7 linked regions of the Homo sapiens genome follow. The protein of the gene in region 4 purifies or fractionates together with the protein of the main gene of each other region. This does not show direct contact. Each region holds a gene or a part of one and is shown on either strand. Other genes may lie near its edges. The genes, in order: GOT1, FANCD2OS, CTH, SERPINB8, PLXDC2, TIFAB and TOX4.

Region 1 (3,500 bases), on a different chromosome or scaffold from region 4:
TGGAGTTGCTGTTTTTGAGGAGTATCTTCATGGCATTCTCTGTATTTCCTGAATTTGAATGTTGGCCTGCCTTGCTAGGTTGGGGAACTTCTCCTGGATAATATCCTGCAGAGTGTTTTCCAACTTGGTTCCATTCTCCCCGTCACTTTCAGGTACACCAATCAGATGTAGATTTGGTCTTTTCACATAGTCGCATATTTCTTGGAGGCTTTGTTCGTTTCTTTTTATTCTTTTTTCTCTAAACTTCTCTTCTCACTTCATTTCATTCATTTGATCTTCCATCACTGATACCCTTTCTTCCAGTTGATCGAATCGGCTACTGAAGCTTGTGCATTCGTCATGTAGTTCTCGTGCCATGGTTTTCAGCTCCATCAGGTCCTTTAAGTACTTCTCTGCATTGGTTATTCTAGTTAGCCATTCGTCTAATCTTTTTTCAAGGTTTTTAACTTCTTTGCGATGGGTTCGAACTTCCTCCTTTAGCTCAGAGAAGTTTGATCTTCTGAAGCCTTCTTCTCTCAACTCGTCAAAGTCATTCTCCATCCAGCTTTGTTCCGTTGCTGGTGAGGAGCTGCATTCCTTTGTAGGAGGAGAGGCACTCTGATTTTTAGAATTTTCAGTTTTTCTGCTCTGTTTTTTCCCCATCTTTGTGGTTTTATCTACCTTTGGTCTCTGATGATGTACAGATGGGTTTTTGGTGTGGATGTCCTTTCTGTTTGTTAGTTATCCTTTTAACAGTCAGGACCCTCAGCTGCAGATCTGTTGGAGTTTGCTGGCGGTCCACTCCAGACCTTGTTTGCCTGGGTATCAGCAGCGGAGGCTGCAGAACGGGGAATATTGGTGAACAGCAAATGTTGCTGCCTGATCGTTCCTCTGGAAGTTTCGTCTCAGAGGGGTACCCGGCCATGTGAGGTATCAGTCTGCCCCTACTGGGGGGTGCCTCCCAGTTAGGCTACTCAGGGGTCAGGGACCCACTTGAGGAGGCAGGCTGTCCGTTCTTAGATCTGAAACTCCGTGCTGAGAGAACCACTACTCTCTTCAAAGCTGTCAGACAGGGACATTTAAGTCTGCAGAGGTTTCTGCTGCCTTTTGTTCGAGCTCTGAGCCTTTCTTCTGCTTGGAAGGCCTCACCATTCCCAGGCTGCTGTCTTAGTTCACTAATAGCCTCTTAATTTACCTTCCTGCCTCTAGTCTCTTCCCTGTTTTAGTACATTCTGCATGCTGCAGCTAGGATGACCTTCCTTGGCAAAACAAGCTACTCATGTCACCTGTTCCCACTCCCCACCCCCACCGCCCATAGCTCCCCCATTGCCTGTAGGGTAAAATCCAGACTTTGAGCTTGGCATGCAGTGAAAGTAGGTGACAGGTGACAGTCTTCATCCTGTTCTTACAGTTGCTGATTTCCCCTCACTCCACTAGAGGTCCTGACATTCTAAGAGTCTTGCTGTTCTCTAGACCTACTGGGCCCTGTCAAGACTAAGAACCTTTGCCTGGCCCTTCTCTCCATTTGGAATGCCCTCCCTTATTGCTCTAGCTGTCCAGTCCCCACCTCTAAGTCCTTCAAGAGCTGATCAAGGGTCACTTCCACACTGAATCCTTAGGTATTTTAGGCAGAGCTTGTTGTTTAAGCTCTCTGAGTTATCACAGGACTTTGTTCACAGCTTGGGAATAACAGTACTTAACTGTTCTTACTATAATGGATAATTTTATAAGTCTTCATCTCCCACAAGGCCCTAACTTTCCCCAGGAGAGTGATCATTGCTTATTTACCTTGCAGATTTTCAGCATTTGGCTCCTATCCGGGTACCTCAGGTTCCAAAGGTTTGGATTCATTCATTCCTTTAGTCATCAGATGCCCACTACTAGAGCCAGGCACTGTTCTAGATGCTGGAGCACAGCAGTGACTCAAACACACAGAATCCCCTGCCCTTGCATTCAGTTTCGGGGAGAGGAACAGACTCTAAATGTAATCTTTTTGACTATATCAGTAAGAAAATGATGTAGTATACTAAAGATGATAAATGCTATAAAAATGGAGCAGGAGGTGGCATGTTAGGAATTCTAGGAGTGGATACAGTTTTAACTAGGGTGGTTATGATAGAAATAGAAATGACATTTGAGCCAAAACTTAAAGACGAGACATAAATGAAAGAATGAGTGAACAAGTAAACCAACAGTAATTGTTTCTTCCCTTAGATTTTTCTTCTCCAGATTCAACATTTCCAGATCCTTTACCCATTTTGAGGAGACCTATTTTCTAGACTCCTCACTGCCTTGTATTACTTTTCCACTTTCAGATCTTAGGATCCAGACAGAAATGTCGATTTTTCATCTCTGGCATAGTGCTGTTTCAGCTTTGAGATTACTGAGCATTGTAGGAAGGAGGGCTCATGGGTCATAACTCATTGTCACATCATGACATCCCACTCTCGCTTTGATTGCCTCTAGGCGACTTGGGGCTTCTGCTGTGGCTCAGATCTTTTCACCACTGTCTTCTTTCTTCATCTAGTTCAGCACATGCTTATGTAGTACCATGTGCCAGATGCCGTGAGAGATGCTGGGGGCACCCAGATGAATGCAGCATGGCTCTGGCCACAGGCAGCTCCTGGTTGCTCTCCTATTCCTCATGGTGAAGTCATAGTATCGGCAAATTGTTATCTCAGACAAGGGTTCTAGAATCCAGCAATCTTATGCTGACATGTCCAACAGAGGCCTGCTCTATCTAGCTTCATACCAAGTCTTCCTGGATTTCCCTTGTTCTGGATACTCTTGTTTACCCAGGTCCAGTTGCCTGGCTCCTTGAGAAGTCTGTACTTACTTCCTTTGATGTTATGATTTTCCTTTATAACAAGTACAGGACATTCTTAGGCTGTAGGACAATTTGCCAAAAATCAGTTCACAGAATGACCACATTGCTATATTATTGATTCACCAAAAACTTGTTTCTGTTAGTTGCTGATGTTTAGAGCAACTTGTGTTTCACTGAAGCCATCCAGTATTTAATAGATTTTTAGGGAGTGATAACTTCTTGAGAATTTGATATTTCAAGTGTCATATATGTCATGAATGTCAAGGATTAGTTAATGTGGAGTGGGTTTATCTCTTCTAAGCACATTTTTAATGTATTCTACTGATTTTTAAAAAAATGAATTTGCTTTCTGTAGTGGGAGAGAAAGGGTGGAGTGAAAAGTTGAGAACAGGAAATGAAAAATTATGCCTGGGAATGTTTCCACTGGTATCTATGCATCTATCGTGTTTCCAGAAGTTAAAACCATGTTCAAGGGAGGTCTTGCTCATTTGCTTAGGAAGTATTAGCACTCTAGAGTGGCTTAGGTATCTGCAATGTGAAGTCATGTATGAAACTGACATTCAACTTAGCTGGATGACAAATCCATAAAAAATAAATGCACATTTGTGTTATATCATCTTGGTAGCAATTTGCATAAAGAATTCAGGTAAACCACAATGTGGGGGCAAAACTTTTAAAGTAATAGCAAGGGATG
Region 2 (4,075 bases), on a different chromosome or scaffold from region 4:
CGTCTCAAAAAAAGAAAGAAAAAAAAAGAGGGAAATAAAAATGAACTAACTGGGGAAAAAAGTTTTGTAATTCAAAATCATTTGTGTCTCTTCCAAGTCTCACTATTCTGTGCCTCTCTCTTCATGTTCTGACCCGACATGCCCTCCAGACTCTTCTCCACTTACCTCTTCTTCCAAAAGGTGCACATGTACACACAGTGGGTGTGTGTCTTCTAAATCAGGATCTTGCCTGACTCTATTCTCAGACCCTCAGTCTTTCTCCATCAGCTTTACCCAAAAAACCAGAACAAAGGTGACAAGTCTTATTTGTGGTGTGTGTTCTATAGTTTGTAAAATGCAAGGGCAATTCTGGGTGTACAAGGGAAGGCCAAGTAGGCCATTAGTTACTTCCTCCCACAAATACTGCACACTGCCAGACATGGCAATAGCCAGGTACTGGGAATACAGACATCAGCTGGGTAGACTCCTCCCTTCCCTCAGCCATCCAGGGTCATTATTTTAAGTGATGATTACAAAGTTGTCAAATCACTCCTTCACTAATATGGCGAAAGTGTATTTCTGCATTATAAGAATGAGACAAAATCATTCTTTTTGAGATTTTTTTGTTTTCTTTTTGAGCTGGGAATCTCACTACGTTGCCCAGACTGGTCTTGAACTCCTGGGCTCAAGCAGTCTACCCATCTCAGCCACCTAGATAGCTGGGATTACAGGTACTCTCAGGTTTAACGCAAGGCTGAGAAAGGTTTTCTGTCAGGAAATCAAGGAAAGACGTGCGTTTCCTCCTGCTCTTGACAGGTGAACATTTATTAATTCTCTTTCTTTGCCACTGGGATCATTCAAATAGAGCAACAAAACCTGACAGAGCTCTGGGTCACTCTGCCTGAGCACCCACTGAGCAGAGTGTGATGAGTTGGGACTAACTTTTAACACTAACTACAGGTCCTGGGACTTTTATGCAGGCCTCTGACCATGGCCATTGAAGTAGGGGTCGCCTGTCCTCTGTGGCTTGATCAAAGGCACACAGGTACACAGGTGTGGCACGGTAGGGAGGAGGACAATGGAGGGGACAGGATTCGGACCAGCCCTCCTGAAGGCCAAGTCCTGGACAAGGCATTCCAATGAGGTGGGGGCGGGGAGTGTGGCCCTGACGCCTCCCAGTAGGGCGCCTCGAGCCCCCATCCCCGCCGCGGCTCGGGCTGCCCTGCCGTCCTGGGTCACAAAGGCGGTTGCCAGGCGCCACGAACAGCGGCCGCCACTTTGGAGCGTGAGACCCTCAGAGTTCAGCAGGTGAGCCCCGGGCCCGGATGGTGGGACTGGGCCCAGGTTCCCACCGCATCGTCCGCCTCAGCCAGAACCTTCTGGTCCCCGCCCCCGGATAGGGACCCAGGAGGCCCAAGCCCCTTCTTCCGGCGGGGAGTGGGAGCCTCTCGCACTCTCGGCAGCTCCAGACCCTCGGGATCTCCGTTTACAGTTCAGGACCTCAGCTGCACTTTGGCGCTAACGCCCTGTTTCCCAGGTGGGGAAATCAAGAGATGGGGTTCCTTGGAATGGGAAGTGGGGTGTGAAGGGGAAACCTTTTTGGCCAGGAGAATCAGGTGTTCCATATCTGGGAGCTATTGAGCAGCTTGAGCAGACTTTGTAGGTTCAAGCCCTTCTGGAGTGGTTGACAGTGACTTCTGGGCGGTGGGGATGGGGTGAACCATCTTTAAACTTTGTGCGAAGAGGTGCAGGGACCTAGGTTTAGAAGCGCTCTCGTCCCATGTTGGTTCTGCCGAATATTTAGGCTGACTCCTGACCTCAAGTGATTGGCCCGCCTTGGCCTCCCAAAGTGCTGTGATTGCAGGCCTGAGCCACCGCGCCGCGACCTAGGCTGGACATTTGACAAAGACTTTTACTTCTACCTCTACTTCCTCTTAGAAGATGTGGCAAGAAAAGGATCCGGGGGGCCCGGGCCCGGTGGCTCACGCCTGTAATCCCAGCACTTTGGGAGGCCGAGACGGGCGGATCACGAGGTCAGGAGATCGAGACCATCCTGGCTAACACGGTGAAACCCTGTCTCTACTGAAAATACAAAAAAATTAGCCGGGCGTGGTGGCAGGCGCCTGTAGTCCCAGCTACGGGAGGCTGAGGCAGGAGAATGGCGTGAACCCGGGAGGCGGAGCTTGCAGTGAGCGGAGATCGCGCCACTGCACTCCAGACTGAGTGACAGAGCAAGGCTCTGTCTCAAAAAAAAAAGAAAGAAAGAAAGAAAAGGATCCTGGGATTAAATACTTTTTTAAATCCCATATTCTGGGATTAAAAATATGCTTGACAGCATTCATACCCTCCGCCCACCTTGCCATGGTGGTGTACCACAGTAGTCCCTCTCTTGGATATGTGCTCTGAAGGTCAAGATATCAAGCACCAGAAGCCTTTCACAGGGTGTTTGGAATAGATAACTGTCCCTTGGGTGTCCCTTTCTCATTCTAAGGCAGCCCAGATATTTGAACACTTAGTACTTTGCAAAGAGCCTACATAGATCATGAGAAACATACTAGTTGGAGAAAATCAACAAATCCCCCTATACTAACCATTGTCAGGAGCAGGTCTTCTGGTCTGAAATGTCACCAACGTTTTTTTCTTTTTTGAGACGGAGTCTCCCTCTGTCACCCAAGCTGGAGTTCAATGGCTTGATCCCGGCTCACCGCAGCCTCCATTCAAGTGATTCTCCTGCTTCGGCCTCCTGAGTACCCGGGATTACAGGCACCCACCACCACGCCTGGCTAATTTTTGTATTTTTAGTAGAGACGGGGTTTCACCCTGTTGGCCAGGCTGGTCTTGAACTCCTGACCTCAAGTGATCCACCCACCTCGGCCTCCCAAAGTGCTGGGATTACAGGTGTGAGCCACTGTGCCCGGCCAACAGTTCTTTTTTTAAAACGAACTTTTCTATCTCACAAACGGCGGTGAAGGTGTCAAAATTTTCACAGTATTTCTGGGGCAATTACTGGATAGGATGAGATCTGCTGCTATCTTCTGTGGGAGAAGAAGGGGCAGAGAAATACACTTGGCTAGAAAGAAAAGGGACCTGCTATGCCCACTAACAAAATAGGTACGTGCTAAAAAAAATTAGCTTCTGAATTTAGTAAAACTTCTTATATACTGGCAATGTTGAAGGAGAATGATGGAAAATTCTAATTTTACTTGCATAAATTTTCAGTTAGCAATATCCTCACAGCCCTTTTTAATCTTCAAAGGAAAAAGAAAATTAAGGTCTTATGGAACCAGTAGGTCTTCCATAGATGGAAAACAAACAAATCAGAAAAACAAATTTAAAACCACACCCACACCTAGAAAAACAAAAATCTTTAACAGTTTTTTGACTGGACTTTGGAAGTGTTTTCTCCCAGCCTGGTGTAGCTCCTCTGAGGTGGTATATAAATAACCCAGGGGTCTGCAAGTTGCTCCCTTGTGCTAGAAAATGCAGAGGCCTTTGGGGCCAGGAGATGATCTCAGTAATGAATAGTGAAAGCTAGAGTTGTTTGAAAGGAATAGCATAAGAAATTCTCAAAATAGACAATGCAAGAGGGCTTATATAAATGCAGATTGCTGGGTCCCACGTGGAGTTTGTTCCTGTTGGTCTGAGGTGGGGCCCAAAAATGTGCATTTCTGCAAGTTTCCAAATGATGCTGAAGCTGCTACTACAGGGTTCATACATCGCGAACCTCAAAATATATATATATATATATATATATATATATATATATATATATATATATAATTTTTTTTTTTTTTTTTTTTTTAGATGGAGTCTTGCTCTTTCACCCAGGCTGGAGTGCAGTGGTGCGATCTTGACTCACTGCAACCTCCGCCTCCTGGGTTAAAGCAATTCTCACACCTCAGCCTCCCCACAGAGCTGGGACTACAGGCATGCGCCACCACGCCCGGCTAATTTTTGTATTTTTAGTAGAGACAGGGTTTCACCATGTTGGCCAGGCTGTTCTGGAACTCTGACCTCAAGTGATCCGCCCGCCTCAGCCTCCCAAAGTGCTGGGATTATAGGCATGAGCCACTGTGTCCAGCCACAAATATTTTTA
Region 3 (3,500 bases), on a different chromosome or scaffold from region 4:
CTTTCGGAGGCTGAGGCGGGTGGGTCATGAGGTCAGGAGATGAAGACCAACCTCCCCAACGTAGTGAAACCCCATCTCTACTAAAAAAGTACAAAAATTAGCTGTGTGTGGTGGCGTGCCTGTAGTCCCAGCTACTCTGGAAGCTGAGGCAGGAGAATCGCTTGAACCCGGGAGGTGGAGGTTGCGCCACTGCACTCCAGCCTGGCAACAGAGCGAGACTCCCTTTCAAAAAAAAAAAAGTCTGCTCAACTTGTCATAAACAAGGGCACATAGCAACAAAACTTTTAGAAGTTATTGTTGTTAATACTGGGAGCTTCTGAATCAGAAACAAAGGTGAAAGAGTGGTTGTGTTTTGTTATGTTATGTGAAGCAGAGGGAGAAAATTATAGGACTTCTAATTAATGTTCGAATCCTTGGTTCACAATCCGGTTTTGACACTCCCTAGGTACTATTGCATTTGGCTTCACTTTCCTCAAAGCCAGTCATAAGGATTAGTAGAATGACTGGATGAATATAGCTAGCAGGGTGCCATATATGTAAAAGGAGAATAATGCAATTTTTTTTTTTCCCGAGACAGAGTCTCGCTCTGTTGGCCAGCCTGGAGTGCAGTGGCACTATCTCGGCTCACTGCAACCTCCGCATCCTGGGCTCAAGCAATTCTCCTGCCTCAGCCTCCCGAGTAGCTGGGATTATAGGAATGCAAATTTTTAAAAAGTATTGTGTGGAGCTGTTTTGCCAGGAATTGCTCCCTATGCTTTGAGCCACTTTTGTAGAGCCAAGATGTGAATGAATGTTGAGCATTGGTAGGATGTGATCATAACTTCCTGTTGTATGCTAAATAGAACTTGAATCAGCCTGACAGATGGCTCACTCCTGTAATCTCAGCACTTTGGGAGACCAATGTGGGAAGATTGCTTGAGGTCAGGAGTTCAAGACCAGCCTGGGCAACATAGCTAGACTGCCTCTACAAAAAATAAAATTAAAATATTTGTTAGGCATGGTGACATGCACCTGTAGTCTTAGCTACTCAGGAGGCTGAGATCGGAGGATTGCTTAAGCCCAGGAGTTTGAGGCTGCAGTGAGCTATGATTGCCCCACCGTACTCTAGCCTGGGCAACAGAGTGAGGTCCTATCCTTAAAAAAAAAAACTTGTATCACTTAATCATTTATTTCTTAGGAAATGAAATACAGGTTAGAATTAGGTTTATTCTGTTGGCTCATGCAAGTCCCTTTTCCTAATGTTTCCAGATTAATGAAAAAAGGTGAGTCTAACATAATAAACATACTAATAATAAAAACTGTCATTTATTTAGTGATTAGCATGTGCCAGGAAACATGTAGTGAATTTGTGCATTATCTCATTTTATCTTCACAACAATTTTATGAACCAGATATCTGTATTTTATTCCCATTTTACAGATATTGAGATTGACTCTTGGAAATGTGAAGTAACTTACCTAGTGTCATGCAGCTCATAAGTGGCAGATACAGAATTCACATAGAGTTTGTTTGACTTCAGAGCATCTTGACTATAGCCACAGCACTGTTCTGCTTCTGTATTAAAGCAAGACATATCATGACTAAAGAATAGAAACTAATTATGGTAGGGTGAAACTATAGTTCTCTATGTTAGGACTCTGATAATAAACTGAAATCTCTTAGGATGAACTCGAACTTGTTTTTTTCAGGGTTTTGAATATAGCCGTTCTGGAAATCCCACTAGGAATTGCCTTGAAAAAGCAGTGGCAGCACTGGATGGGGCTAAGTACTGTAAGTAATTTCCATTTCACAGTCTAGAATCTATTTTTAAATGTATAGAGAAAACCATAGAGGCACAGAATGTGGAACTGAAAAGAAACAGATTTGCTAGTTCAAAATTCCTGTTCTACTGCCTTTGAATTCTTTGCCCAAGGTCCCTCAGTTGGTATAATATGCATATGTGTAATCATCAGGTAAAAATACGTATGAATAGAGGACAAATGAATAAAGGAAAAAATTCACACGAATACTACATTTATTAATACTACATTTATCATGTAGTATTCATGTGAAAACAATCTTCATCTGAAACTGTCAGTATAAATAAATAAATGGAAATTAAATTTAATAACACCACCTATTAGAATATAAAATCTTTTTTTGAGACAGGGTCTCTCATTCTGTTGCTCAGGCTGGAGTGCAGTGGCACAATCTCTGCTCATTGCAACCTCCTCCTCCAGGATTCAAGCGATTCTCCTGCCTCAGCCTCCTGAGTGGCTGGGATTGCAGGTGTGCACCACCACACCCTGCTAATTTTTTTTTTTTTTTTTTTTTGAGACAGAGTCTTGCTCTTGTCGCTCAGGCTGGAGTGCAATGGCAGGATCTCGGCTCACTGCAACCTCCGCCTCCTGGATTCAAGCAATTCTTCTCCTTCAGCCTCCCAAGTAGCTGGGATTACAGGTGCCTGCCACCACGCCCAGCTAATTTTTTGTATTTTTAGTAGAGATGGGGTTTCACCATGTTGGCCAGGCTGGTCTCGATCTCCTGACCTCGTGATCTCCCGCCTTGGACTCCCAAAGTGCTGGGATTACAGGAGTGGGCCACCACGCCCAGCCTTTTTTTTGTATTTTTAGTAGAGATGGGGCTATTTTGGCCAGGCTGGTCTGGAACTCTTGGGCTCAAGTGATCTGCCCACCTCGGCCTCCCAAAGTGCTGGGATTATAGATGTGAGCCACCACACTTGGCCTAAACTTGCTTATCCTCTGGTTTATTCACCTAATAATTTGTGCCTGAGAATAGCACTAAAGTTATTTTCAGTGGTCAATAACTCCTGATAATGTGCTGTCAGAGATTAGAGATTAACTCCCTAAACTTTTTTTTTTAATGAAGAGAGTCTTGTGTATTCATTGTGATTACACTTATCAGACAAATCTCAGGTCTGATTGCGAGTTTTGTTAAAATATTTACTGAATTGCATATTCATATAATTAACGTATGAATCATATCTTTGCTCTATTCTTTATGTTTGAAATTTCTCTTTTCTTTCTTTTTTTTTTGATATGGAGTCTCCCTCTGTCACCCAAGCTGGAGTGCAGTGGTGCAATCTTGGCTCACTGCAACCTCCACCTCCTGGGTTCAAGCGATTCTCCTGCCTCAGTCTCCCTCGTAGCTGGGATTACAGGCATGTGCCACCATGCCTGGCTAATTTTTGTATTTTTAGTAAACACAGAGTTTCACCCTGTTGGCCAGGCTGGTCACGAAATCTTGACCTCAAATGATCCACCTGCCTTGGGCTCCCAAAGTGCTGGGATTATAGGCATTAGCCACCACGCCTGCCCTGAAATTCCTTTAGTTTGCTATTTTTAAACTGTAGTTTAACTGGCAATAGGCCTTTTATCTCAGATATTTGTAAAGAATTATTTTCTTGAAGTGTTTCAGAGAAATATTATTACCAAGGCAAAATTGACTTAACACAAAAGTATCTGTCCACATTATATATTTTTTATTTTAAAGATATCTTA
Region 4 (2,794 bases):
CTGTCCAAGGTTGCCCACAAGTGCTTCGTGGAGGTCAATGAGGAAGGCACAGAGGCTGCCGCAGCCACTGCTGTGGTCAGGAATTCCCGGTGCAGCAGAATGGAGCCAAGATTCTGTGCAGACCACCCTTTTCTTTTCTTCATCAGGCACCACAAAACCAACTGCATCTTGTTCTGTGGCAGGTTCTCTTCTCCGTAAAGAGGAGCAATTGCTGTACATACCCTCCTTTCCTTCTACCTATCTTGCCTTAATTAACATTCCCTGTGACCTAGTTGGTGCAGTGGCTTGAATGCCAAAATAAAGCGTGTGCACTGGATAGTGTGTGAAAGTCTTTGCTGAAAGTTCCAGAGCCATTGAGAATAACTGAGGCCGCAGATGCATGAAATTTGGGCCTGGGAAGGCTATGCTGGTTTTGGAGTGTTTGGGGTGCCTGCCATTGCCTCTGCCTTCACCTAAGTCTGTGCCCATTGTTTCAGGGGATCTTATGGAGCATCTCAGGGCTTCAGGAGCCAGCCCTCTTCCATCCGCCCGGCTCTGCCCACCACCACTGCCAGGCTGAACAGGGGACTAGTGCCCAGGTGACACTGCACACAAAGCCAAGGGCAAACCCTATAGAGTAAAGCTGCAGCCACCCTGTGTCTCATGTGCAGCTGAAATAGTGATCTGCTTCTGTCACTGTCACATAGACAGCCCTGCATGCCCCCTGTCTCACACAGTTTGTAATGAAGACAGCTCCTTCTCATCTTTCCATAAGCCTGAGATACAAGTTCAGGGACTCAGCAATGCACTTTAGGACTGAGCTAGGAGGCAAATATCTGAAGCTTGCTATGCTGTTCTTTCCATTCCTTTTCCCTCTGAAACACACAAAATACCAAAGGAACTTACGCAACACACCACTGAGTCCTCTAACTAATCATATGTGCTCAGACACAGCTCAAGCACACCCCTTAGTTAAGAAAGAACCTCCATATACATTAATTTTTTTCTGCCTAAAAATAAAATTGCGTTGTGGCAGCAATTTGGAAACTACAGCAAAGTCTCCAAAAAAATTGAAGTCACCCACAATTCCAACACACAGCAATCACTGCTGTTAATAGTGATATACATCCTTCCCTATTATGTGTATGCAAATAGAAATTTATAAGCATTTTACTACAAGTTAATCATATCCTTCAGTAGCTTATTTCTTCCCTTATGAAAAACCTCCCTTAAGATCTTTCCAGGTCATCAATTTGATGTGCATAGTATTCCACTGTGTGGCTGGATTTCTATAATTGAATCTAATTTTAGACAGTTTGAGTAATTAAAATTATTTCTATTAACAAATAATAGATTGCTAATAATATATATTATGCTGTTTTGGATATACTAAATATTTGCTCACATCCTTAATATATTTTTTAAAATTCCTAACAATAGTACTGTTGAGATAAAAGTTGAGCACATTTTGAGACTTCTTCCAAATTGGTCCCTAGAAAGTTACACTGGTTTGTACTCTCACTTATGTCACTGTTTATACCACCACTGACTGCTGCCTGCTTTATTATTTCTTTAATGAGTTGGACTGAACAGTGGTTAATCCTGACTCTGTTTTTGACTGACAGTTAACAGTTACATGAACCATTCATATTACAGCTCTTACTTAAATTTGACCAAGCCAGGATATATCTGTTAGGCCACATTCATTTAGGGATCATGTTTTCCAAAGCAGGTTTGGGCAAAATTAATCCACAGGACTGAAAGGTATACATCTGTGAGTTTTGTTCTCACTTCCACCTCTAATTTGAAGAACACTTTAATTGACACAGAATACATTTCACATATTTAACCTCTACAATAAGTTCTGACACATTTTCCATGAAACAAACCATCGCTATATTCAAGATAATGAACCTATCTATCATACTCCCAAATTCCTTCTTGCATCTTTGTAATTTCTCACTCTTCCTTCTCCCTCTCCCCGTCCCATCCCAACCACTGATCTGCTCAGGCAACTACCAATCTTCTTTCTGTCACTATAGATTAATTTGCATTTTTAAAGAAATTTACATACATGGAACCATACATCATCTATGCTTTGTAGTATGACTCCTGTCACTCAGTACAATTATTTTGAGATTCATTTATGTTATTGTATGTATCAATAGTTCATCCCTTTTATTGGTAAGTAACATTTTTTTGTATAGGTATACCATGATTTGTTGATGAACAAATTTACCTGTTGATGAACATTTACGTTGTTACCAAGATTTTTGCTATTGAAAATAAAGTTTTTATGAATATTTATATATATACATCTTTGTATGGACATATGTCTTCATTTCTTTTGTATATAGATACATAGAAGTAGAATGGCTGGGTCATATGGAAGGTGTAAGTTTAACTTTTTAAGGATCTGCCAAATTGCCTTTGAAAGTGGTTGTATCATTTAACATTCCCAGTAAAGCCTAGGAGAGTTCTGGTTTTTCTCTCTTCTCACCAATACTTGGTACTACCAGTGTTGTTACTTTCAGCGTGTACCGGCTTTTGGTTGCATTTCCCTAATGCCTAATTATGTTCAGCATTTAAAAAAATGTGCTTAGGCCGGGCGCGGTGGCTCACGCCTGTAATCCCAGCACTTTGGGAGGCCGAGGCGGGCGGATCACGAGGTAAGGAGATCGAGACCATCCCGGCTAAAACGGTGAAACCCCGTCTCTACTAAAAATACAAAAAATTAGCTGGGCGTAGTGGTGGGCGCCTGTAGTCCCAGCTACTCGGGAGGCTGAGGCAGGAGAATGGCGTGAACCCGGGAGGC
Region 5 (3,500 bases), on a different chromosome or scaffold from region 4:
CTGGTCAATAGATGACTTTTTGGGCCTGAAATCCAAAAGAGGAATGTGGACTGGAAATATAGATTTATGAATAATCAACATAAAGATGTTCATTGCAGTCATGGGTGTAGAAGAGATTGCAAAAGATAATGCATAGAATGAAGTGACAGAGCAAGAATGATCCATAAGAACCACCCCAACACTTAAGGAATTGACATAAATAAAAGGAAATTGAGATGGAGTTGTGAGGGAGGTGTCAGAACATTGAGGAGAGGGTGTGTCACAGAAACCAAGACAGGGGAGTGGACATCTGCACCATAGGCTGATGAGGTGTCAGTAGGACACCATGGAAGATGTTGGATATTTAGCTAAGGAGATATTTAGAAACATTGGTACGAGAAATTTCAACTCAGTTGGATTAGGTAAGAGCAAGATTGTCATAAAAGGGAAAGCTGGGAGTCTGAGAAGACCAAGGCAGACTGATCTCTCTGGAAATATGACTGCGTATGAATGGAGGGAAAGCAGTATAATGTCAGGATGCATTGGGGAGAAGAGGGAGGCAGTCCCTCTTCTGGGACTGCCTCCCTTTGCAAACTGGAATTTGGGTTTGCAAAATAAGATTAGGCATGCTTGTGTACCTTTAAGTGTTGTTGATAAGAAGCCAGCAGAGAATTAGGGGTGGCAAATATTGTAGAGAAAGGACTATGATCACCTAAGCAAATTCACAATACCTGTGAAGGTGGGCTGAGTTGAGCTAGGACATAGGTAGAAATAGGTTGAAAGGATGGCTATAAGGAAAGGTCCCCATCCATTATCACAGAAGGAAAGAATAGGTCAGCCCAGAGTCAAGTAAGTATGCTGATTCACTAAGAAATTTAAAGAAATCTTGCTGATCATGCCTATTTATCAAGGAAATGGAAGGTGAACCCAAGGAGTAAAACCGGGAGAATCATGATGGGATTGCAGTTTTAGGTAAAGTGGAGAGAGCTTGAAATTCATACTGAGCATAATGGGAGAGGTGATTAGCAAGACACAGCAATGCTGCCAAGTGGTATGCACGGCCCTGCTAAGGATGCAGGAGATGTTTGTGGAGCCCCCATGGCGGGTCTGTGTGATTATTCTCCAGCTGTGCCTGGCTTTGGAGCAGGCAGGGAAAAGGCAGATCTTTTCTTTAAAGGTGTTGTAGAAAAAAAAACTAAAAAAAAAAAAAAATAAAAAAATAGAGCAAGATGCTTGAAGCTACTGAAATGAGTGGTTGAAGTAATGGGGGAAAAAGAAACTTAAAAACAAAATCATTTTCTTAGGCTTTCTAAGTAGTCAAAGAATAAGAAGAATTGGAGTTCGCAGGTACAGGGATAGATGGAAAAAGGATAACTGAGCTTATGATTTCAGATCTAAAACATTTTCCACTACAGATATAGTCCAGGGTGTGGGGATGACAACTAAAGTGGTATCTGAAAGGAAATAATTAGATTAATGGGGCTCAGAGGTGCAGGAACTGGAATTTGGGGAATTAAATGAGACCCTAGTATGTTTAGACTTGAAGTGGAGAATAAACCTGTTTCATATCCTATTAATGAAAAGGAGGCTGTCTCAGGAAGTCTGCATTAACAAGGGGAAAGGCACCTAGCGCTCCACTAATGATGAGAGAAGTTTAAGAATGATATTTATTTAACAATAATTTTAAAATGTGGGATGAGAACCACTCATGTCCAGAATAGTTATTTTCTACTCAAGGCCCACCTGAGAGAGGGAGTCCACTGCGGCACAAAAGGTGGATAGAAACACCAACTTCTAAGCTATAAAAGTTTGGATGTTGGAGGTTGTTACCAGTGAAGGTTGTAGGATTTGTTTTCACAAATTAAAAATAAAAAATTCACTATGTCTCATTTCCTGATGTTTTCAATATAGCTCTGCTAAGGAGGAAAATAGGCTGAGTGATTACAAGAGTTCTGTTCAATCCTTTGCTTATGTGGTTTTGAATATTTCATAAAGGAAAACAAAATTTTAGACATTCATTCAACTTGTGACAGATGATTTTTGAAACAATGAAGTAGTATGGGGAAGTTAGCAAATATTTCGGATTTAGCATTGTCAGTTTGATACGAAAGGAATGCACTTTTTCTCCACAAACCTGAGTATGTTTTAAACCTTATCTTTATGCACCTGTTTTTCTTCTAGTATAAATTTTCCCTTTTGACAGTGTGTCTTTTATAAATATACCAATGTAAAATTTAGGGCAAGGTAAACAGTAATATGAAAGCTTAACAGCAGTAAATGATGAAACCTAAATATCTAAAAAGGGAAATGCCTTGTTCCATCCATCTTTTTCTCTTTCCTATTTTATAAACTTCATAAATTAGCAAAATCATTAATATAGTCTTGTACAAAAGTAATTTATTCCTTGTCTTGATATGAGAGGCTTTTGTGCTTTACAGCCCAGCTTCTTTGATGTAAGTTCTAAAAATAGATTTGTGATCACTCCATTTGTTTTCCTTTTCTTTTCTCTTACTAGTCAAAAGAGAAGATGTGTGAGAATACAGAACCAGTGGAAACTTCTTCTCGAACCACCACAACCGTAGGAGCGACAACCACCCAGTTCAGGGTCCTAACTACCACCAGAAGAGCAGTGACTTCTCAGTTTCCCACCAGCCTCCCTACAGAAGGTACCCAAGAGATAGTTTGCTTTTTTTTTTTTTTTTTTTTTTTTTTTTCCCTGAAGGAAGGAAAAATCACTGTGTTGACATGTACTGGAATAGCTCCTACTCTCTAGGTCTCTCTAAAGTTATTCTTTGGCAAACTGGATTTCTAAGGGATTTCCAAAGGGGAAAAAGACAAAATTATTATGAACTAAAAGTAAATGCTGGGATTCTTTTAATGCACTGTGCCTTTTTTTAAGACATAGCTTTTACCATTGATTCTGGCTTCTTGTCCTCTCCTTCCTAGAAAAGAAATACAGATTTCTTCCTGTGTGGCTAAATTTTGTACTAAGCAAATCCAACTTCACAATCACAGGTTAGAAAGGCAAAATGCATATAAAATGTCCGTTGATTCTGGATTCTGAACAATAAATAATTCTATTAATATATAATTCTAATGTTTTCCAGAATGCAGTCAATAAAATATATTGGTCTATAACCTATACAGAAACACTGTATGTGTCATAGAAATTGTCCTTGAAAACAACTATTTCCTCTTCTAAGGTAGGCAGAAATACTAGAGAGTGTTAATGCTTGGGCACAGCTCAGGAGGAAGAAAGTGTATTACCCAACATACGATAATTTTCTATTCTGAATGATACCACCAGGAGGGAGAGGGCAGAAACATAAGACTGGCCACGAATCAGGTTTGAGGGGGATAAATGGGTCTTACTTGTTTATTGTTATAAGCCTCACTTTCTTTGGCTTGAATAAAAAATTAAATATGGAACTTTTAATTGGAATTTAATTTGATATTATAAGGTGAACTGGAATAAAGTGGGGTGGAAAGCAGCTGCTAAGTGCATTTTACTGCTTTTAAAA
Region 6 (4,081 bases), on a different chromosome or scaffold from region 4:
GGAAATAGCAGACAAAAGCCTCCAGGGATGTGCCTTCTTCTACGCGAACCAGCATCTGGATGCCTGAGAAGGAGACCCTGTTGACGGTGCTCAGGGGGACCTGCTCCAGGTACCTCAGCGTCAGCCCATTGACCCACACACAGCCCTTGCGGCTCAGGGCCTTGAGGCAGAAGGCCAGCAGGGCACTGCCTTTCTCCAGGTAGGGCTCCAGGGACAGGTGACGGCGGGAGAGGCGAGGGAGCTGCAGCTGGAGGTGGGCGTCCTGCCCCCGTCCGAGAAGCAGAGGGCTGGTATCATGCTGCAGCCGTGGTGGGACATTGGCAAAGGCAGATGGGCCCAGCGTGGGATGGTACAGGCTCACTCGCAGGACGGTGAGGGGCTTCTCCATGGAAGAAGTCCTGGGAAGTTGGAACATGGACACACAGGCTCAGCTTCAGTCAGAGACCTCTGTGGCTCCCTGAGCCCAGACACACTTGCCCACCTCAGGGGCCCTGTGCCTGTTCATACAATCACTCTGCCCAAGCCAGGATGGAGCCAAGGCTGGAATTGGTGTGGAAGGTCATGAGCTTAGTCTCTCTCATACTCTGAATAGAACATGCCACCCACTCTGTCTGACTTTTGGATTTCTGTAGTATAGATATATCTGTCCTTGTCTATGCAAGGGATAAGGCATGCTGGCTTGCAGGGTGGGGATTTGGTAATCTTTTGGTTATTTGGAGACAACTTGGCCCTGCTTCTTGGAAAGGAAAGGGTAGACAGACTGGCTACATTTTCCTTGTATCTGACAGTCACACAACAAACCCTTGCTGAATCCTCCTTTGAGCCAAGCAGGGAACCAGCTGCTGGGGAGAAGCAGATTCAACAACGAACCGAGCCCTGACTCTTGGGAGCACCCACTGGTGGAGGAGAGAGGTGTTTCTAGCATCAGGATGTGTGGAAGGACACAGAAGGAGGATGCTTAGCCTAGTCCTGGCCACCAGAAAGGCTGCCTAGAAACCCTGGTGAAGAGTAAACAGCTAGCACATTCCGAGTGGTTACTATGGGCACTTGCTGGAAGGCCACTCACAATGGCCAGCTTTGTTCCTGCATGGGTTTGAGGAACACAAACTCTGCTATGTCCACCAGCACCCTGTGGCCCAGGACCTGCCATCATCTTCAACAGGAACCAAGGGTTGAGTGGATTTGAATAACTAATTATACATTCTCTGGGTACCAGGCTTTTGCTCACATTATTTCTCTCCTAAGAATGCATCTTCCATCCCAAACTCTGTGTCCAAATACTGCCCACGGTTCAAGGCCCTGTTCAAGTGTTACCTCTCCTGTGAAGCTCCCTTCCCTGGGGAAGGTGACCTTTCGCTGCCTTCTGACTCCCACAACAGGGGGAATCCCCCAGGACACCTGGCCAACCTTACTCTCCATTCATTCCATCTTTGCATTTCATGCCCAAGTTCTGTGGGCCCTTGTCCTGTCTTCCCTGAGTTCCTCTCTTCCTGCCCCTGAGGCCTCCCAAGGGCTGGGTATGGTCTGGGCTGTGGTTCTTGCTGCCCCATGTTCCACTGCCCCATACAAATAGGGCCTGGCCACCATAAATGTCCAGGGGCACATTTGCCGAGTGGCTAAATGAGAAGCCCACACACACACATGGTGAAATCACCCAGAGAGACCACAAATGGGATCATGTCTCAAAGGCTGTGGGACAGCGAGCCTGTTGCAGGTGGCTTGAACTCAATGTCCCTCCAGGTCTTGAACCTGCTGCCCCTCCTGCCTTTTAGATGCAGTAGGTTAATGGCTGAGACCTTTTAGTCTGATAGTGAGGGCACCCTTTCACTATCAGAGGCCTGAGGGCACCCCCTTTCCCCTAAGGCACAGACACACATATGCCTCTACCCACACCCCATCTGGCCATAGTCTGCCGAAAGCCTTTCTTTTTTTTCTTTTTTTTTTTTTTCTGAGATGGAGTCTCACACTGTCACCCAGGCTGGAGTATAGCGGCATGATCTTGGCTCATGGTAGCCTCCGTCTTCCAGGTTCAAGGGATTCTCCTGCCTCAGCCTCCCCAGTAGCTGGGATTACAGGTGCCCGCCACCATGCCCAGCTAATTTTTGTATTTTCAGTAGAGACGGGGTTTCGCCATGTTGGCCAGGCTGGTCTCGAACTCCTGACTTTAGGTGATCCGCCCGCCCCGACCTTCCAAAGTGCTGGGATTACAGGCGTAAGCCACCACGCCCAGCCAGAAAGCCTTTTCTCGAGGTATGCGTTACAGGCTGAGCCCAGGACAGGTGGGCTGGGCAACCCATGCTGTCAGGCCTGGCTGGAAACTCAAGAGTTCACTCCCAGAAACTAATATCACGGCACAGAGACCCTGAAAGAATCCCTCAGGAAGAAAGATTCACAGTTGCTGTGTGGCCTTACTCTCTGCTCCAACCAGAGCTAACAGAAATCTCCCACTAAAGAGGAGCCCATCCACGACAGGCTGTCCCGTGTCTTTTGGATCCCAGGTGTTCTGGGGAAACAGAAACCCAGCCCTACAAATCCAGCCTTTGGGACGGGGCAGGAGGAAGACACTCCAGAATGTGTGTCTCAGGGGAGCCCTCCTCCCAGCCCCACCAGGCCCTCCCTTCTCCCCATGGGTTCAAGCCCCTCTGGCTTCAACTTACCTTATTGCCGGGGCACATCTGGCTCTAGTCCTGCAGCTGTGAGCTCTTGAGAGGGAGTAGGCTGGTTTGGGTAGGGCTGGGAGGGCTCCTATGGCTGCAGTTCAGGAACGTGGCAGAACATACTTCAGTTTTGTTGCATTCTTCCTTTTTCCCTTTAGGAAAGAAAATAGAAGTGTAATTTTTCATTGCAGAAGTGCAATTCCACTGCTGAGAGTTTGAGAAACCCCAGCGTGGGGCCCCTTCTGAGACAGATGGCCTGCCTTCCTGGGTTTCAGTTCTGCCAGCCTCTCCTACCCCACCCCCAGGGACCTTAGGACCTGCACCCAGGGTATCTGCAAAGTTCCTCTCCACCTGCCAGTAGGATGGGGTCAAAGCAGCCCAGGCATGTTAGAAAAGAAGAGCTTTTTGGGACAGATGGCTACGGGACAGGAGAGTCCCCTGAGTGTGGGAGAATGAGGAGAGCGTTCTGGCTGGATAGAGGTTGGCCAAGGAAACTGTAGGCAACATGGCACTTCCCTGAGGGTCTCAGGAGAGGGCAGGGCCTGGGGACGGGGAGGATGGAGAGGGCAGTAAATGGCCACTCATAGAACATGATCTCTCCTGCAGAACAGTGAGAAGGTGGTCTCTCATGCCCACTCCCCATCGCCCGAGCTCTGCCTATTTGCATGCAGTTTGGAAGGGGTGAAGATGGTCGCTTGTCCAGCACTGCGGGCTCTGGCTGCCCTGGAATGTGAAGGTGCTAACCCTTCACGTAGCCCAGCATTTCATAGTCCACCAGTGTGTTCAAGTCACCTGCGTTATCTCCTAGGAGTTTTATAGTTCTATACGTACATTTTAATTTTTCTGACATGTGTAAGGTTTGTGTCTAGATTTTTTTTTTTTTTGGCTTATAGGTGTTCAGTTGTCTCAGCACCATTTTCCGAAATGACCATGTTTTTTTTCCTTCAGTGTTTTCTCTTTACTCCTTTGTCAAAGATTGGTTGACTGTATTCATGTGGGTTTATTTCTGGGCTCTCTACTTTGTATCATTGATCTATTTGTCTATTTTTTCACCAATACCTTACTGTCTTGATTGCTGCAGCTCTGTAGTAAGTCTTGAAGTTGGGTACTGCCAGTCCTTCAATTCTGTTCTTCTCTTTCAATTTTGTCTTGGCTCTTTTGAGTTGTCTGTCTATATAAATGTTAGAATCAGTTTGTTAATAGCCACAAAATAACTCGCTGGGATTTTGACGAGACTTCATCAAATCTATCAATAAAGGAGGGAAGAACTGACATCCTGACAGTATTGAATCTTCCTATTCATGGACATGGGATATCTCTCTATTTGTTCAGTTCTTTGATTTCCTTCATCATAGTTTCATGGGTTTCCTCATATAGATCTTGTATATGTTTTGTTAGATTTATACAGAAATATTTCTTTTTTG
Region 7 (3,500 bases), on a different chromosome or scaffold from region 4:
GAAGGACACTACATGAGGAATTATAGGAGACATTATTAGTGGAAAGTACATGGGAAGAGTTAAAGAACCTGGATTGTGTCTCAACTTTACCACTTAAATGTTATATGACCTTAACTGGGCAGTGGGCTCCAGTTTCCACCTTAAAAGCGGGAAATGGTAGCTATTTTTGAGAGTTATTGTAAAGATGCAGTACTTCTGTAACAATTATTATTATTTTTTGAGATGGAGTTTCACTCTTGTTGCCCAGGCTGGAGTGCAATGGCATGATCTCGGCTCACCGCAACCTCTGCCTCCCGGGTTCAAGCAATTCTCCTGCCTCAGCCGCCTGAGTAGCTGGGATTTGAGGCATGCCACCACACCCGGCTAATTTTTTTGTATTTTTAGTAGAGTCGGGGTTTCAATGTCAGCCAGGATGGTGTTGATCTCCTGACTTCGTAATCCGCCTGCCTCGGCTTCCCAAAGTGCTGGGATTAACAGGCGTGAGCCACCGCGCCCGGCCTATAACAATTATTATTTATTTATTTGAGCCGGGGTCTTGCTCTGTCACCCAGGCTGGAGTGCAGTGACACAAACATGGCTCACTGCAGCCTTTATATCCTGAACTCAAGCAATCCTCCCGCCTCAGCCTCCACAGCTGGGACCAAAGGCACATGCCACCACACCCAGCTAATTTTCTGTGAGACGGGGGTCTCCCTATGTTGCCCAGGATGGTCTCGAACTCATGGGCTCAAGCAATCCTCCTGCCCTGGCCTCCCAAAGTGCTGGGATTAAAAGCATGAGCCACCACACTCAGCCTATTAATAATTTTTAAATAGGCCGGGCGCAGTGGCTCATGCCTGTAATCCCAGCACTTTGGGAGGCCGAGGCGGGTGGATCACGAGGTCAGGAGATCGAGACCATCCTGGCTGACATGGTGAAACGCCGTCTCTACTAAAAATACAAAAACAAAATTAGCCCAGTGTGGTGGAAGCGCCTGCAGTCCCAGCTACTCGGGAGGCTGAAGCAGGAGAATGGCGTGAACCCAGGAGGCGGAGCTTGCAGTGAGCTGAGATCACGGCACTGCACTCCAGCCTGGGTGACAGAGCGAGACTCTGTCTCAAAAAAAAAAAATTTAAATAGGTTTTCTGGAGTGAGTGTATGGCTGCAACTTCGAAGACAAGGGATGATATTTAAGTGTCATTAACAAACAGCTGATATTAGATAAGGACATGTAAGAAAAAAGAAAACCTCAATTTTTATCTCTTTAAAAACTTCTGGAACATTCACTACTAGTTCCTCAATATTTGCTCACCTGTTTTTGCTCCTCTCCAAGACTATCCCACATGGAGGCCACAATTTTTGAAACCTCACCAAAAGTGGCATTAGGATTCTGTCCCTTGATGGCAGCCTGTGTATCACGAAAGAATAAAGCATATGCTGAAACTGGTTTCTGAGGTTCATTAGGATCTTTCTTTTTTCTCTTCTTTGGGGCCTTCTGCTTTTTCCCTGCTTCCACCACGACTGTCTTCTGGCTGGGAAGTTGCTGTAGGAGAGAAAAAAGAGAGAATTACACAATGGACAATGACAAGTATTATGTCTGGAAACTAGCCACATGTATGGAATTTTCAGAAATGCTAAAAATCATAGAAATAGCATTAAAAGACATTAGTCAAATATGGAGAACCAATAAGAATAGGGATTGAGAGGAGAATTATAAACTGGAAATTGGGAGGTGGAACCCCATACCCAGAAAACAGCAGAGGAGATGGCACGGCAAGGGTAAAGAATACTGATTAGGCTCTGTATCCCAAAAATTTTATCCCAGACTATCACAGCAGAATTGATTTTGACAGGGAATGCCTCACCCTCCGGAAATCCTCAACACCATCCTCGTGAAGTGAACTAGTAGGTGAAGGGGTGGTTGAAAGACGATCTTCAGGTGACTGGGCAGGTGGCAGGATGGTGCCACCCCCTAGGCTCAAACCCAGCTGGGAACTCAGTTCTGACTGATCAATGGTGGTCAACTGGCTATGCCCCATCAAGCCAGATGTCATGTCTGTCATTGGTACATCAATTGTAACAGGTGGGTTGGCACTATACTGAGTTCCTATAGAGTGGTCCAAGTCCTGAGAGAAGCAGAAGGACTAATTAAACACTAAATATAAAAAAAACCACTTTTCCCCCCTAAATTTAAGACAGCTTATAAATTCCCTGCCTACCCAAATTGTATCATTTAAAATACAAAACATAAAATAGTCTTCAAAAATGAAAATAAAAAAATAAGCTTTTTAAAAAAGTACAGAAATTAATGAATTTACTTCTTTGCACTCAAAAGAAGAACTAAAAATAATCAGAGAAGTCGCACTGTTGGACAAGTCAAAGAGCTATCAACTTATTCAGTAATATATAGGTAGTGACAACACATTGAGTAAAGAAAAACTTCCTATCTGTACTCTCCCAAAATAATAGCTTTTAAAATTGTAATACATAGGCAATCAGCATAAATAAGGCCAATATTAAAGTCTGGCATCAAATATAGAGTATGAAGATGTGCTTACTGGTTCGATGTGCTGGAAGCCCAATATACTGATTTATATTACATACTAATCCACAATACTATATTTGGCTCAGACTTTTTTTTTTTTTTTAAGCTCTGTTCTGCTGGCTGCTCAACGTGATTCAGGCCATTTTTGAATAAATCCCTCCGTGTGCCAGCTATCACATTCAAATTTGAATCCTAGGATGTGAAGGCCATAATAAAAGCAGAAAACACTTTTTCCCAAAAACCACAATAAATAATTTTCAAACCAGACATTGTACAATTTTAAATTATTTTTCAAGTAAAATCTACCTACATGGTAAATTTCATTTATTCAGGTGAAATTAAGTCTTTGTTGGTGAGCCTTTAGCCACAAGAAGAGAAACAAGTAATACCCAAGTGTAGCAGGGAATAGAGTAACTTTGTCTCCCCTAATGCCATGCCCATTAGCTGGGGTAAGCCTGACAATGTCTTGCCCCTTACCATGGTCAAGCCCCCACTCAGGAGCCCCCCGCCCTGCTCCATCAAGCCATGGGTCATGCCCACAGGCATGTCCAATGTCTGGACCCCATACTGGGCTGAAAAACTGCCATCCTGTGAAGAGGAAGGGTCTGCCAGGTCATCAAAGTGGCCAACCACATCTGAGACAGCCAATGAGGGATCAGAATCCAAGGAGATAGGTGGGATTTCAAATTCCTCATCACCCAAGCTTGGTGTATGGAATGTCTGTAGGGGAAAAAAGGGGGAAAAGAATTAGTGAAAAGAGGAGAAATGGCATACTACTAAGTGAAGAACATAATGGGGTACTAGAGATTCTCAGGATGCATTTTTTCTGCTTAGGATCCTATTTTATAATCAATTTCTTAGAACCTATTATTTTTACCAATCTCTCTTCTGATACCCTTGGTCATTTGGTACATTCAAGGCTGCTAACATCAGTCACAATTTTCAATTCTTTTATCTCTTTTCTACCATTACCGTC

What was found.
Region 1: the proteins of SERPINB8 (region 4) and GOT1 purify together in Homo sapiens (affinity purification with mass spectrometry; one large-scale study listed by BioGRID and IntAct). This does not show direct contact.
Region 2: the proteins of SERPINB8 (region 4) and FANCD2OS purify together in Homo sapiens (co-immunoprecipitation; one large-scale study listed by IntAct). This does not show direct contact.
Region 3: the proteins of SERPINB8 (region 4) and CTH fractionate together in Homo sapiens (co-fractionation; one large-scale study listed by BioGRID). This does not show direct contact.
Region 5: the proteins of SERPINB8 (region 4) and PLXDC2 purify together in Homo sapiens (affinity purification with mass spectrometry; 2 studies listed by BioGRID and IntAct, with this or other methods). This does not show direct contact.
Region 6: the proteins of SERPINB8 (region 4) and TIFAB purify together in Homo sapiens (tandem affinity purification; one large-scale study listed by IntAct). This does not show direct contact.
Region 7: the proteins of SERPINB8 (region 4) and TOX4 purify together in Homo sapiens (affinity purification with mass spectrometry; 2 studies listed by BioGRID and IntAct, with this or other methods). This does not show direct contact.

The regions. Positions count from the first base shown.
Region 1 is NC_000010.11:99,410,125-99,413,624, reverse strand, and holds part of GOT1 (aspartate aminotransferase, cytoplasmic), read left to right. Parts: intron 1-3,500. UniProt on the Homo sapiens protein: Biosynthesis of L-glutamate from L-aspartate or L-cysteine. Important regulator of levels of glutamate, the major excitatory neurotransmitter of the vertebrate central nervous system. Acts as a scavenger of glutamate in brain neuroprotection.
Region 2 is NC_000003.12:10,105,456-10,109,530, reverse strand, and holds the start of FANCD2OS (FANCD2 opposite strand protein), read left to right. Parts: upstream 1-1,275; 5' UTR 1,276-1,516; intron 1,517-2,993; exon of another isoform or gene 2,994-3,071; coding exon of another isoform or gene 3,072-3,090; intron 3,091-4,075.
Region 3 is NC_000001.11:70,414,268-70,417,767, forward strand, and holds part of CTH (cystathionine gamma-lyase), read left to right. Parts: intron 1-1,688; coding exon 1,689-1,770; intron 1,771-3,500. UniProt on the Homo sapiens protein: Catalyzes the last step in the trans-sulfuration pathway from L-methionine to L-cysteine in a pyridoxal-5'-phosphate (PLP)-dependent manner, which consists on cleaving the L,L-cystathionine molecule into L-cysteine, ammonia and 2-oxobutanoate.
Region 4 is NC_000018.10:63,987,081-63,989,874, forward strand, and holds the end of SERPINB8 (serpin B8), read left to right. Parts: coding exon 1-198; 3' UTR 199-2,294; downstream 2,295-2,794. UniProt on the Homo sapiens protein: Has an important role in epithelial desmosome-mediated cell-cell adhesion.
Region 5 is NC_000010.11:20,214,932-20,218,431, forward strand, and holds part of PLXDC2 (plexin domain-containing protein 2 isoform 1 precursor), read left to right. Parts: intron 1-2,494; coding exon 2,495-2,645; intron 2,646-3,500. UniProt on the Homo sapiens protein: May play a role in tumor angiogenesis.
Region 6 is NC_000005.10:135,449,552-135,453,632, forward strand, and holds the start of TIFAB (TRAF-interacting protein with FHA domain-containing protein B), read right to left. Parts: upstream 2,801-4,081; 5' UTR 2,658-2,800; intron 1,172-2,657; exon of another isoform or gene 949-1,171; intron 399-948; 5' UTR 389-398; coding exon 1-388. UniProt on the Homo sapiens protein: Inhibits TIFA-mediated TRAF6 activation possibly by inducing a conformational change in TIFA.
Region 7 is NC_000014.9:21,487,195-21,490,694, reverse strand, and holds part of TOX4 (TOX high mobility group box family member 4), read right to left. Parts: intron 3,245-3,500; coding exon 3,002-3,244; intron 2,106-3,001; coding exon 1,845-2,105; intron 1,523-1,844; coding exon 1,292-1,522; intron 1-1,291. UniProt on the Homo sapiens protein: Transcription factor that modulates cell fate reprogramming from the somatic state to the pluripotent and neuronal fate. In liver, controls the expression of hormone-regulated gluconeogenic genes such as G6PC1 and PCK1.